3 separate regions of the Homo sapiens genome follow, and all the other regions are reported to be linked to region 2. The links are microRNA targets in miRTarBase. Many come from high-throughput screens and were not tested one by one. Region 2 holds a microRNA gene; each other region holds the end of a gene's coding sequence.

The links. The annotated mature microRNA hsa-miR-608 reads AGGGGUGGUGUUGGGACAGCUCCGU and lies in region 2 at 1,334-1,358, shown strand. An mRNA with a match to its seed (bases 2 to 7 or 8) in the 3' UTR can be bound and repressed. Matches are read on the target gene's strand: a 7mer-m8 pairs with bases 2 to 8, a 7mer-A1 pairs with bases 2 to 7 and ends in A, and an 8mer does both.
Region 1: the mRNA of MLX is a reported target of hsa-miR-608. Seed matches in the 3' UTR shown: 7mer-A1 at 2,615-2,621 and 7mer-A1 at 2,297-2,303.
Region 3: miRTarBase lists CYP11A1 as a target of hsa-miR-608. Seed matches in the 3' UTR shown: 8mer at 2,793-2,800.

Annotation. Positions count from the first base shown.
Region 1 is chr17:42,571,257-42,574,505 of GRCh38, reverse strand. MLX (MAX dimerization protein MLX) reads right to left here. Exons shown (of 8, transcript NM_198204.2): 8 at 1,303-2,959. The coding sequence ends at 2,903. It overlaps PSMC3IP (PSMC3 interacting protein), which reads left to right. Exons shown (of 8, transcript NM_016556.4): 4 at 296-407; 5 at 883-1,028; 6 at 1,142-1,195; 7 at 1,340-1,399; 8 at 1,482-2,196. The coding sequence ends at 1,538. Among named protein-coding and RNA genes, the nearest start is that of PSMC3IP, 4.8 kb to the left of the region's middle.
Region 2 is chr10:100,973,667-100,976,915 of GRCh38, forward strand. MIR608 (microRNA 608) reads left to right here and starts at 1,319; the gene lies at 1,319-1,418. All of the region lies in intron 4 of SEMA4G (semaphorin 4G), which reads left to right.
Region 3 is chr15:74,334,996-74,338,244 of GRCh38, forward strand. It overlaps CYP11A1 (cytochrome P450 family 11 subfamily A member 1), which reads right to left. Exons shown (of 9, transcript NM_000781.3): 9 at 2,767-3,108. The coding sequence ends at 2,977. It overlaps CCDC33 (coiled-coil domain containing 33), which reads left to right. Exons shown (of 19, transcript NM_025055.5): 18 at 1-93; 19 at 930-1,146. The coding sequence ends at 1,058. Among named protein-coding and RNA genes, the nearest start is that of CCDC33-AS1, 17 kb to the left of the region's middle.

The DNA.
Region 1 (3,249 bases), not on the chromosome of region 2:
AGGTAGTGGTTTTATCACTAAATGGGAAGATTTCTGTCCTAATCAGTATCCTGTCAACCTAGTAGCTTAAGGACAAGCATTAGATTTCAGCTTTTCTTTCCTACCTTTTTAGTGGGGCCGCTCCTTAACTGAAAACAATTTCTCAAAAGTACTCTCCCACTATTTCTGCAGACCCTCTGGAGACTTTGGGGTGTGGCTGGTTCCTGAGCATATCCAAATGGTGCCTTCCCAGGTGTGTGTTCCCATCTTTGTGCCTCACAACAGTTCACTTGTATTTTCCCTCTTTGTCTGGCAGGACCAGTTTGACATGGTGAGTGATGCTGACCTTCAAGTCCTAGATGGCAAAATCGTGGCCCTCACTGCTAAGGTGCAGAGCTTGCAGCAGAGCTGCCGCTACATGGAGGCTGGTAGGACTGGGTAGCCCCTCCAAAGTGCCCATAGGCTTAGGTTCATTCTAGAGGTCAGGAATTACTAAATGAATGGTTCAATGACTGCAGCATCTTGTTGCAGCTAAGACCCCTTTGCTGGGCTCCCTTAGGCATAAAAAGAAATGTAGGATAACTAACGGCTTTTGTGTACCAACAAATGGACAAGATACGCATTTGTTCTCCCTGCCACGATTATCAGTACACTGTCCCCACGTTTCCCTTTATTCCTGCTTCTTTAACTGGCTACGCCTAAGTAAGTGTTCAACCTCACACCCACGCCACTTGTAGATGGAGGAGGAAAGAAAATTAGAAGAATAAATAATCCTGTATGGCTTAGTTTCCATGTGAGATGATAGATCCAGAGCAAGGTGGAACACCTCAGGGAGCACCCACTGGGAAAGACAGAACTCCTTCCTCAGGGGTAGCAAGTGACCCCAGGCGGATGTGGTTTCAGAGCTCAAGGAATTATCTAGTGCCCTGACCACACCAGAGATGCAGAAAGAAATCCAGGAGTTAAAGAAGGAATGCGCTGGCTACAGAGAGAGATTGAAGAACATTAAAGCAGCTACCAATCATGTGACTCCAGAAGAGAAAGAGCAGGTGAGCTGGAAGGCTGTAGGACCGCTGTGCAGGTCCAGAGTGAACATCAGGGCTGAGCCCCAGAGGGCTGCTGTGGTTCTGAGGAGTTAGAGGAACTTGCTTTTTCCTTCTAGGTGTACAGAGAGAGGCAGAAGTACTGTAAGGAGTGGAGGAAGAGGAAGAGGATGGTAAGTGTGTGGGAGCTCCGAGACAGGCCCTGGAGGTGCCTTTGAAAATGGCAGGCACCAGATCAGCCGCTACACAATATCATAAACTGACAGGCAGTGCCCAGTGCTGCCCATCTGAAAACGGGTGGTTTTATTTCTTGTCAGGCTACAGAGCTGTCTGATGCAATACTTGAAGGATACCCCAAGAGCAAGAAGCAGTTCTTTGTAAGTGGAGCTCTCTTCCTTCTTTGCTTCCCTGTGGTCTTATCCTGGTGACATCTCATTCACTTGTCTCCCTGTCTCACAGGAGGAAGTTGGGATAGAGACGGATGAAGATTACAACGTCACACTCCCAGACCCCTGAGGGGCCCACGGTCAGGACTGGTGGGGACTGCAGGATGTCAGAAGAGTGAGATGTCTTGCACTGGCTACCTTGTTTTTGGTTGGCTTTTGTTGTTGTTCCTGCTACTTTCACCTTTAAGCAGAGCAGTCAGGAGACAAGCATAAACCAGAGCACTGGGTAGAGAGGATGAGGGCTGGTGGCTGGGGGTAGACCCAGCCCATTTCATTGTCTAAATTGCAGTAGCTTGAGGTTAACATTTAGACTTGGAACAATGCTAAAGGAAAGCATTTGGCAATATTTATTATAATTTAATTTTATATAAAAATATTTAATTTCCTCTGGATAGTCAAACCTGCCAGATATCAAACCTGAGGAAGGCAGAAGTGAATTTGGAGAACTAGGGTAGAGAGAGGTTGCTATAAAACGAGCATTTGGAGGGCCCACGGCTTCACTCAGGACCTGCTGGGCTTGTGTACCCCAGGAGCCCTTTTAAGTATCTTTTGTACGCTTTTCACCCCACCCCCAAGTCCTGGGAGAAATGCAGGCAACACTGAGACATGGGAGAGGCCAAGATATGCTTGACAGAAAGGGTGATTTTGAGGCTCAGTTAATATTTCAAAATTGTAACCGTAGCAAAACTGCATTGGTATTTAGAAAAATAAAAAATTTCCAATATGTAGTGCTGTGTTATACCTGCCTCTGCCATGCAGCATCATAGCCTGTGGGAACCGGGAGGGCTTCCCTTACCACCCAGAGCAGAGGAGGAAGGTGATGGAATATGGGGTGAGGGGAGGAACCTGGTGGCCCCTCCCTGAGATGGCCAGAAAGCCCTTGGCCTCACCTGGGACTGACCAGGCAGCCCTAGTCTAGGCACAAGGTGCCCTTTCACCCTTCATGGCTGTGGGAATATTTCCTCTTACTCTTTTTCTCCCATACAGCTACTGCCAAAATGCCCAAACTTGGGCCAAATGTTGCCCAAACTTGGGCCAAAAATGTTGCCCAAGAGACCAAAACAGAGGAAAACAGTTTCCAAATCTATGTAGATCATGAGCAGAAATCTGAGGCTTGAATAAAGGGCTGAGAGGGCAGGAGCTCTTTGGGGTGTCCAGAGCAGACGCCCATCCCAAGGACTTCCATGGAGTGGGGGGAAGGCTGGGTAGGTTTGAGTTTTATCGTCAATATAATAAATTAATCAGAAGCTTTCACAAAACAAACACCGCGGCTCCGCTGAAGATAAAATGGGGCTGGGAAAAACCAAACACCAAGTAGAAACCAGCTGACCAGTGTGAGGTGTTGTAGTCCAGTCTCCCGGGCCCAGCAGTTCAGTGGCCACGTAGAGATTCAAGGGCCTCTTGTTGGCTGTTCTCCAGGTTTCCAAGAACCGGTCAGTAAAGCTGGTTTTTCAATTGGTGCAGGACGCCAATCACAATCTCCCGCAGGGTCTGGCGAGGGCAGCAGAGGAAGAAATAGACAATGCCCAAGTCAACGCAGAGTAGTTTCCAAGATGCCTGCCTAGATCAGCCATGTACTTTAGAAAAGTGCTTTAAAAATAGCCCCCCGGGGGCCAGGTGTGGTGGCTCACGCCTATAATCCCAGCACTTCGGGAGGCCAAGGCGGGTGGATCACCTGAATTTCAAGACCAGCCTGGCCAACATAGTGAAACCCCGTCTCTACTAAAAATACAAAAATTAGGTGTGGTGGCACATGCCTGTAATCCCAGCTACACAGGAGG
Region 2 (3,249 bases):
GCCAGGATTGTTGGGGACACAGATGGGTAGGTACAGACCTGCCAGTCAATCTCAGCAACCACAGTAAACATTGTAAGTATTGCCAGAGTGGCAAGCCATGGGCACAGCATTTTTTTTTTTTTCTTTTTTTGAGGTCGGATCTCACTCTGTCATCCAGGTTGGAGTACAGTGACATGATCATAGCTCCCTGTGGCCTTAAACTCCTGGGCTCAGGGGATCCTTCCACTTCAGCCTCCTGAGTAGCTAGGACCACGGGCACATGCCACGCCCAGCTAAGTGTTTTATTTTTTGTAGAAACAGGGTCTTGCTATGTTGCCCAGGCTGGTCTTGAACTCCTGGCCTCAAGCAGTCCCCCTACCTTAGCCTCCCAAAGTGCTGGGATTACAGATGTAAGCCATTGCCCCCGGCATCTGGGCACAGTACTTCTAATTCAACCATCTGGTGGCCTACTAGTTTGTCCCGCAGTGGCATCTTCATCTCCTCTGGGATCCCAAATAATCAAAATGGCAATAAGTAGGCTGAACGCGGTGGCTCACATCTGTAATCCCAACACTTTGGGAGGCTGAGGGTAGGAGGACAACTTGAGTCCAGGAGTTCAAGATCAGCCTTGGCAACACAGCGAGATCTGTCTACAAAAAAAATACAAAAATTAGCCAAGTATGCTGGCGTGCACCTGTAGTCCCAGCTACTTGGGAAGCTGAGTGGGAGTATCACTTGGGCCTGGGAGGTTGAGGCTGCGTGAGCTATAATTAAGCCACACATTCCAGCCTGGATGACAGAGCAAAACCCTGTCTCAAAAAAACAAACCAACAAAAAACAGTAAGTAACCTCTACAGATGCTTACTTACGATGGGTTACTTACCAATAAAACCATCATAATAAATTGAACCATTGTTAAGTCAGCAACTATCTACAGCAAGTGATGATTTAGCTATTATCTCAGTTAATTCTAAAATAACCCTATGAAATAGTATTATCCTGCATTTTGCAGATGAGAAAAATGAGTCTTTGGTCAAGGAATAGGTCAAATACCCAGTATTCCATGGACAGGCATTAATGAAGCATCAGCCCTTTCCAGCTAAAGAATAGGGTGTCTCCAGGGGTCCCATGTCTGGCTAGGTAATGGCTCCATCTGGAGAGCTTTTACAAAATAAACGGCCCTGGGCTGGGCATGGTGGGTCACACTTGTAATCTCAACACTTTGGGAGGCCAAGGCAGGAGGATCACTTGAGCCCAGGAGTTCGAGGCCAGCCTGGACAATATAATGAGACTCTATCTCTAATAAAAAATAATTAAAAAAAAATTCCCAAGATCCACTGGGCCAAGGTGGGCCAGGGGTGGTGTTGGGACAGCTCCGTTTAAAAAGGCATCTCCAAGAGCTTCCATCAAAGGCTGCCTCTTGGTGCAGCACAGGTAGAAAATGGGGCTGGGGAGGCAGATGGAACCAGGTCATGGAAGGCCACAGATGCCCAGCTGGGAGTTTGGGTTTTATTCTGTGACAGTGAACACCCTCAGAATTTGATACTTTAGAGGCTCTAACTTTAATGTATCACCCAGGTATATTATAAATGCAGATGCTAAACTTAGTAGGTCTGGGGAAGGGCCCAAGAGTCTGCAATTCTAACAAGCTCCCAAGTGAAGTTGATGCTGCTGGTCCCCAGACCACACTTTGGATAGCAAGGCTTTATAGAACAGTTCCCAAAGCATGTTCTGAGGAACATTAATTTTCAAAGGAGGGGTTTAAATGTCAAATGAGTTTGGGAAACACTACATGCCCAGTCCCACAATGCACAGCAACATCCTTCAGGCTCTAGGAAGTAAGCCCAGTAAAGATAGGTTTCACCTGTGGTTTCCAAAGTTATTTGACCAGAGAATTCCTCCCTACCCCCCTTTAAAAAATGTAAACATCCGCTGGGCACGGTGGCTCAGGCCTGTAATCCCAGCACCTTGGGAGGCCGAGGCGGGTGGATCATGAGGTCAAGAGATCGAGACCAGCCTGGCCAACATGGTGAAACCCTGTGTCTACTAAAAATACAAAAATTAGCCCGGCATGGTGATGCACATCCATGCGAGTAGTAGTCCCAGTCACATCACCATGGTGTTGAGAGTAGTAGTCCCAGCTACTCGGGAGGCTGAGGCAGGAGAATCTCTTGAACCCGGGAGGCGGAGGTTGCAGTGAGCTGAGATCATGCACTGCACTCCAACCTAGCGGCAGAGCAAGACTCCGTCTCAAAAAAAATAAAATTAAAAAAATAAATAAACATCTTGGGGAAACATCACTTTAGGAATATTTATCTGGCCCCAGGCACTGGATGGATGAAAATAGGGTGAGTCTGGAGGCAGGAAAAGCAGTGAGGAGGCTGGGGGCATCATTTGGGTCAGAGGAAGGGGCCTGAGCAGGCTTATGGAGACGGGGGACAGATGGTAGTGGCTTGTACCAGGTGAGGGAGCAGGAGGAGACACAAAGAGGCCTGTATGGATTTAAACCCTGGGTAACAGGCAAGAGGAGGAATCATTAACGTGGCAAAGGAGTCAAGAGGCTGGCAGCTGAGGGCATTTGACAGGCAGAGAAGACCAGTGTGGCTGGAGTAGGGTGAGTGAGACCAGAGGAATGGGCAGAGTCCCATCACACAGGGCTAGGAGCATGTGGGACTCTATATTCAGGTCACTGATGAGCCGATACAGTGGTGTGATCCACTTGACTTTTTTTCAGACATGGTCTCACTCTGTTGCCCAGGCTGGAGTGCAGTGGTTCACTGCAGCCTCGACCTCCTGGGCTCAAACAATTCTCTTGCCTAAGCCTCCCAAGTAGCTAGGACTACAGGTGCATGCCACCACATAGAGATGAGGTCTTGCTATATTGTCCAGGCTGGTCTTGGACTCCTGGGCTCCAGTGATCCTCCCACCTCAGCCTCCCAAAGTGCTGGGATTACAGGTGTGAGCCACCACACCTGGCTAGGTTTACATTTTTAGAATATCCCTTGGAAAGTGGTTGGAGAGTAGCAAAAGTGTGTTGTTTGGTAAAATATCTCTGGAAGGAAACTTCAGACAATAGTAACAGCAGTCTTCTTGGCAGGCAACCTGGGAGACAGGGATAAATGGGAGACTCCCTGTTTATAACATACCCCTTTGTACTTTCTAAGTTTTATACTATGTACATGTATTCATTGACTGAATAAATAGCTTTATAAAGTCGTTTTTATAAAAGAGAAGGTTGGGAGGAGCTATCAGGTAGCAACTGCAGATGTC
Region 3 (3,249 bases), not on the chromosome of region 2:
TGGGGACGAGAGAAGCAGGATCTGGCCACACGGCTGCAGGAGCAAGAAAAAGGTTTCAGGCACCCCTCGAACTCCATCATCATAGAACAGCCTGTGAGTGACCCCCCTGGAGTAGCTCCCAGGGGTTCAGGTGGTGGAGCAGGAAGCCACCGCACCCCCAAAGTCACTGGGCCCTGAGAAAAGCCATTGTGGAGCCAACTCCAGGGCTGGGGGTCAGGAGTCCTAGGCTCCCATTCCTGCTCCATTACCAACCGAAGGCTCGGTCTTAATTCCCCCACCTGTCTAAGGGGAACAGAAAACCCCTGCCAAAACTACCCTTTCCCCCATGGGGTGCTGTGAAACTCAAGGAGATGACTGTGGATGAGGGGTCCATGCAGGCATCTCCAGGATGCCCTGACACTGTGCTTTAGGACTGGCTGCGCTCATGGGCAGAGTAGCTTGTGGCCCTACCCCCCTGAATCCATAGAGCCTAAGATTCTCAAATTAGCACACCCTTCTCAGATGGCCACGATGTAGGCTCCACTTTGCCAACTTCCCGAGAACAAACAGGCCTGCTCACAACTGCCCCTCAAGTTCAACCCCGGGACCGCCCAGCCCCGCAAAGCAAAGACCCTGACTTCTCCTGCTCTTGAGCCAGCTGTGCTTTGCCCGTGGCCAGAAGCTCAGCAGCGGCTCCTGGGAAAGGCCTGGAAAGGATGAGGGAACAGGCAAGGAACAAAGGCAACCTTTGCACACTCACCTGAGCCCTGGGGACCCTTGGAGAAATTAGGTGTCACCTGCTGTGGCAAAATGGGTTTAGAAATCTTTGCCAGGTCATGGCCCACTGGATTCTGGATACTCTGAGGCCTGGTTTGTCAGGCAATATGCCCTTGAGCAGGTCACCCCCTGGGAATGGGGGGTACTCACGCACCCCGCTTTGCACACCACAGAGTGCCCTCACCCACTCCATGGACCTCAAGCAGCCCTCAGAGCTGGAGCCCCTGCTGCCCAGCTCAGACTCTAAGCTCAACAAGCCCTTGAGCCCCCAGAAGGAGACCGCTAACTCTCAGCAGACCTGAGCCCCAGAGCAGGCCTCCTTCCCTGTGTGCTGGGGAGTCTCATCACCGCCCCCTAAAAATGACGTTATTAAATGTTGTAGCTCTGTGAGCATTTTCCTCTTTCCTGGAGCAGGGCAGCCTGGGGGCCCTGCTTCCTCCTCCTAGACCTCACTCTGGGCCTGGGCCTGGGTCTTCTGCTGCAGCCTTACAGCCTCCCGCCTGCCCCAGGAGCCAGCATCTTTGGAAAGCCAAGGGCCACAGTGGACCCAGGAGGGTGGAGAGAAGAGGCCTTCCAAAGCAGGGGCCAGGGAGACGGGCCCCTTCCAGACCCGGAGAAGAAGCAAGGCCACCAGAGACCAGCTCTGTTGGGAAATACGAGGGAGGCTTGTCCTTTTCATCTGCCCCAAAACATCTATCATGTCTGATATTCCTTCTTTCAAGTTTGGTTTGTCTGTCTCTTGGAAAGGGAAAGACTTGGAGGCTTGAAGCCTTCCTGTGGCAGTCACGTATCATTGTGAAATACTCCATTAAGCCACTAGGCTGAGCTGGCAATGATGTGTCCAAATGTAGCCGGGGCAGGAGAGCAGATTGGGCCAGGGGAAAGGAGGCACCTACAGGGAGTCAGGAGGCCCAGGTTCTGGGGGCAAACAGGCTGTGTGACCTCAAGGGACCCAAGCAACCTCTCTGGACTTCAGTTTCCCCATCTATTCCATGTAGAGCTTGACCTCATTGGCTGTAAGCCTCTTTCCAGCTATAACATTTCTGAGTCAAAGCTGACTCAGGACCAGAGAAGAAAAAGGACACAGGAAGGAAAGACAAAGACAACAGGGAAGAGGATTTTGTGGTGGGGAAAGCAGAAGGGCTCCAAGAGTGGATCCAGATCCCACAGCTTCGGGCAGGAGAGGCCAGGCCAGCTGGACCACTGGCCTCAGCTGGACTAGCTCCCCCACCTGCCTGCAGGACTTAGACTTGGATAGCCGAGGGCCAAGAGGAATCAGGTCAGGAGTTGGGAGACCCCAAGGGATTAGGGGGCGGAAGTCGAGACCAGTGTCATTCAGTCCAAATGACAAACCAGCGGCTCTGCTGCAGAATAGTATCCCCACCTCCCACCCTTGGACAAGGGGGCGCAAGCCCCCAGAGCAAGAACACGAGGCCTGGAGCAAGCCCAGAGGAGGCCCGGGAATGGTAAAGGAAGCAGGCTGGCCTCTCATCCCCAGTCAGCCACCTCACACCAGCCCTTCAGTAGCAGGGGTTCTCACCCACAGTTCTCGGCCTTTGCCATGCCCAGGACTCTGGCTGGGCCTTGGCAGGAAGTCCTCATGCCCCACAGGGAACTCCCACCCAGAGTTCACCCAAGCAGAGCCCTGTGCGAGCCTTACCCCTGTGGGGCAGGTCCACTCAGAAAGGCAGTACTGGCCCACACTTCTTGGGGCCACCCACAGAACTCCCCAGTTCTCCTTTGTCCTTCTGCCTGATGCTTCTGTAGCTCCTGGCACAGTAGCAGTTGCCTCCCCTCCTCTGCCCCACTCTGCCTCACCCCTTGCCCCAGGGAGCCTGGAGTTGATTCTGCTGGCTCCTGAACTGCCATGGGTGAGGGGGTCCCAGCAGAGGTGGCTTCAAGTGTGGCTACCTGGGGTCTCCTGAGCATGCCCAGATCCTGCTTTAACACAGGAAGCATCTCCACGGGAGTGATGAACACCTAATGAGTCTGATGGAACGCAAGACACCACATGGTTCAGCTGTTTATTGTCTCCATGGGGTGGGTGAAGAGGAGTGGCCCAGCTGAGCTGAGGAAGGTGACCACTGAGAACCCATTCAACCTGCTGAGCAGGCTGGGCAGAAAGGAGCAGGACTTGGGACAGACGACTGAAGATGCAGAGACCCCATGGGCCCCACCCCTGGGCCTTCCTCCCATGTGGCTGCAGGCCATCCTCTCTGATCACTGCTGGGTTGCTTCCTGGTTAAAGGGCCAGAAGGTGAAGGAGATGGGCTTTTCAGGCATCAGAATGAGGTTGAATGTGGTGCCCACATCGCTGAGGTGTTGGATTTCAACTCTGAAGTTCTCCAGCATCTGAGAAAGGCAGATGGTAGGTTTAGGGGAGGGCAGGGGAGGATCTGTCTCCCTAGCCAGGCCAATTCACCCATAGGCAGTGCCTGTGGAGTGTGATTTGAGGAGTTCCAAGGAGTTCACCACCAGCTCCTGGTGTAACCC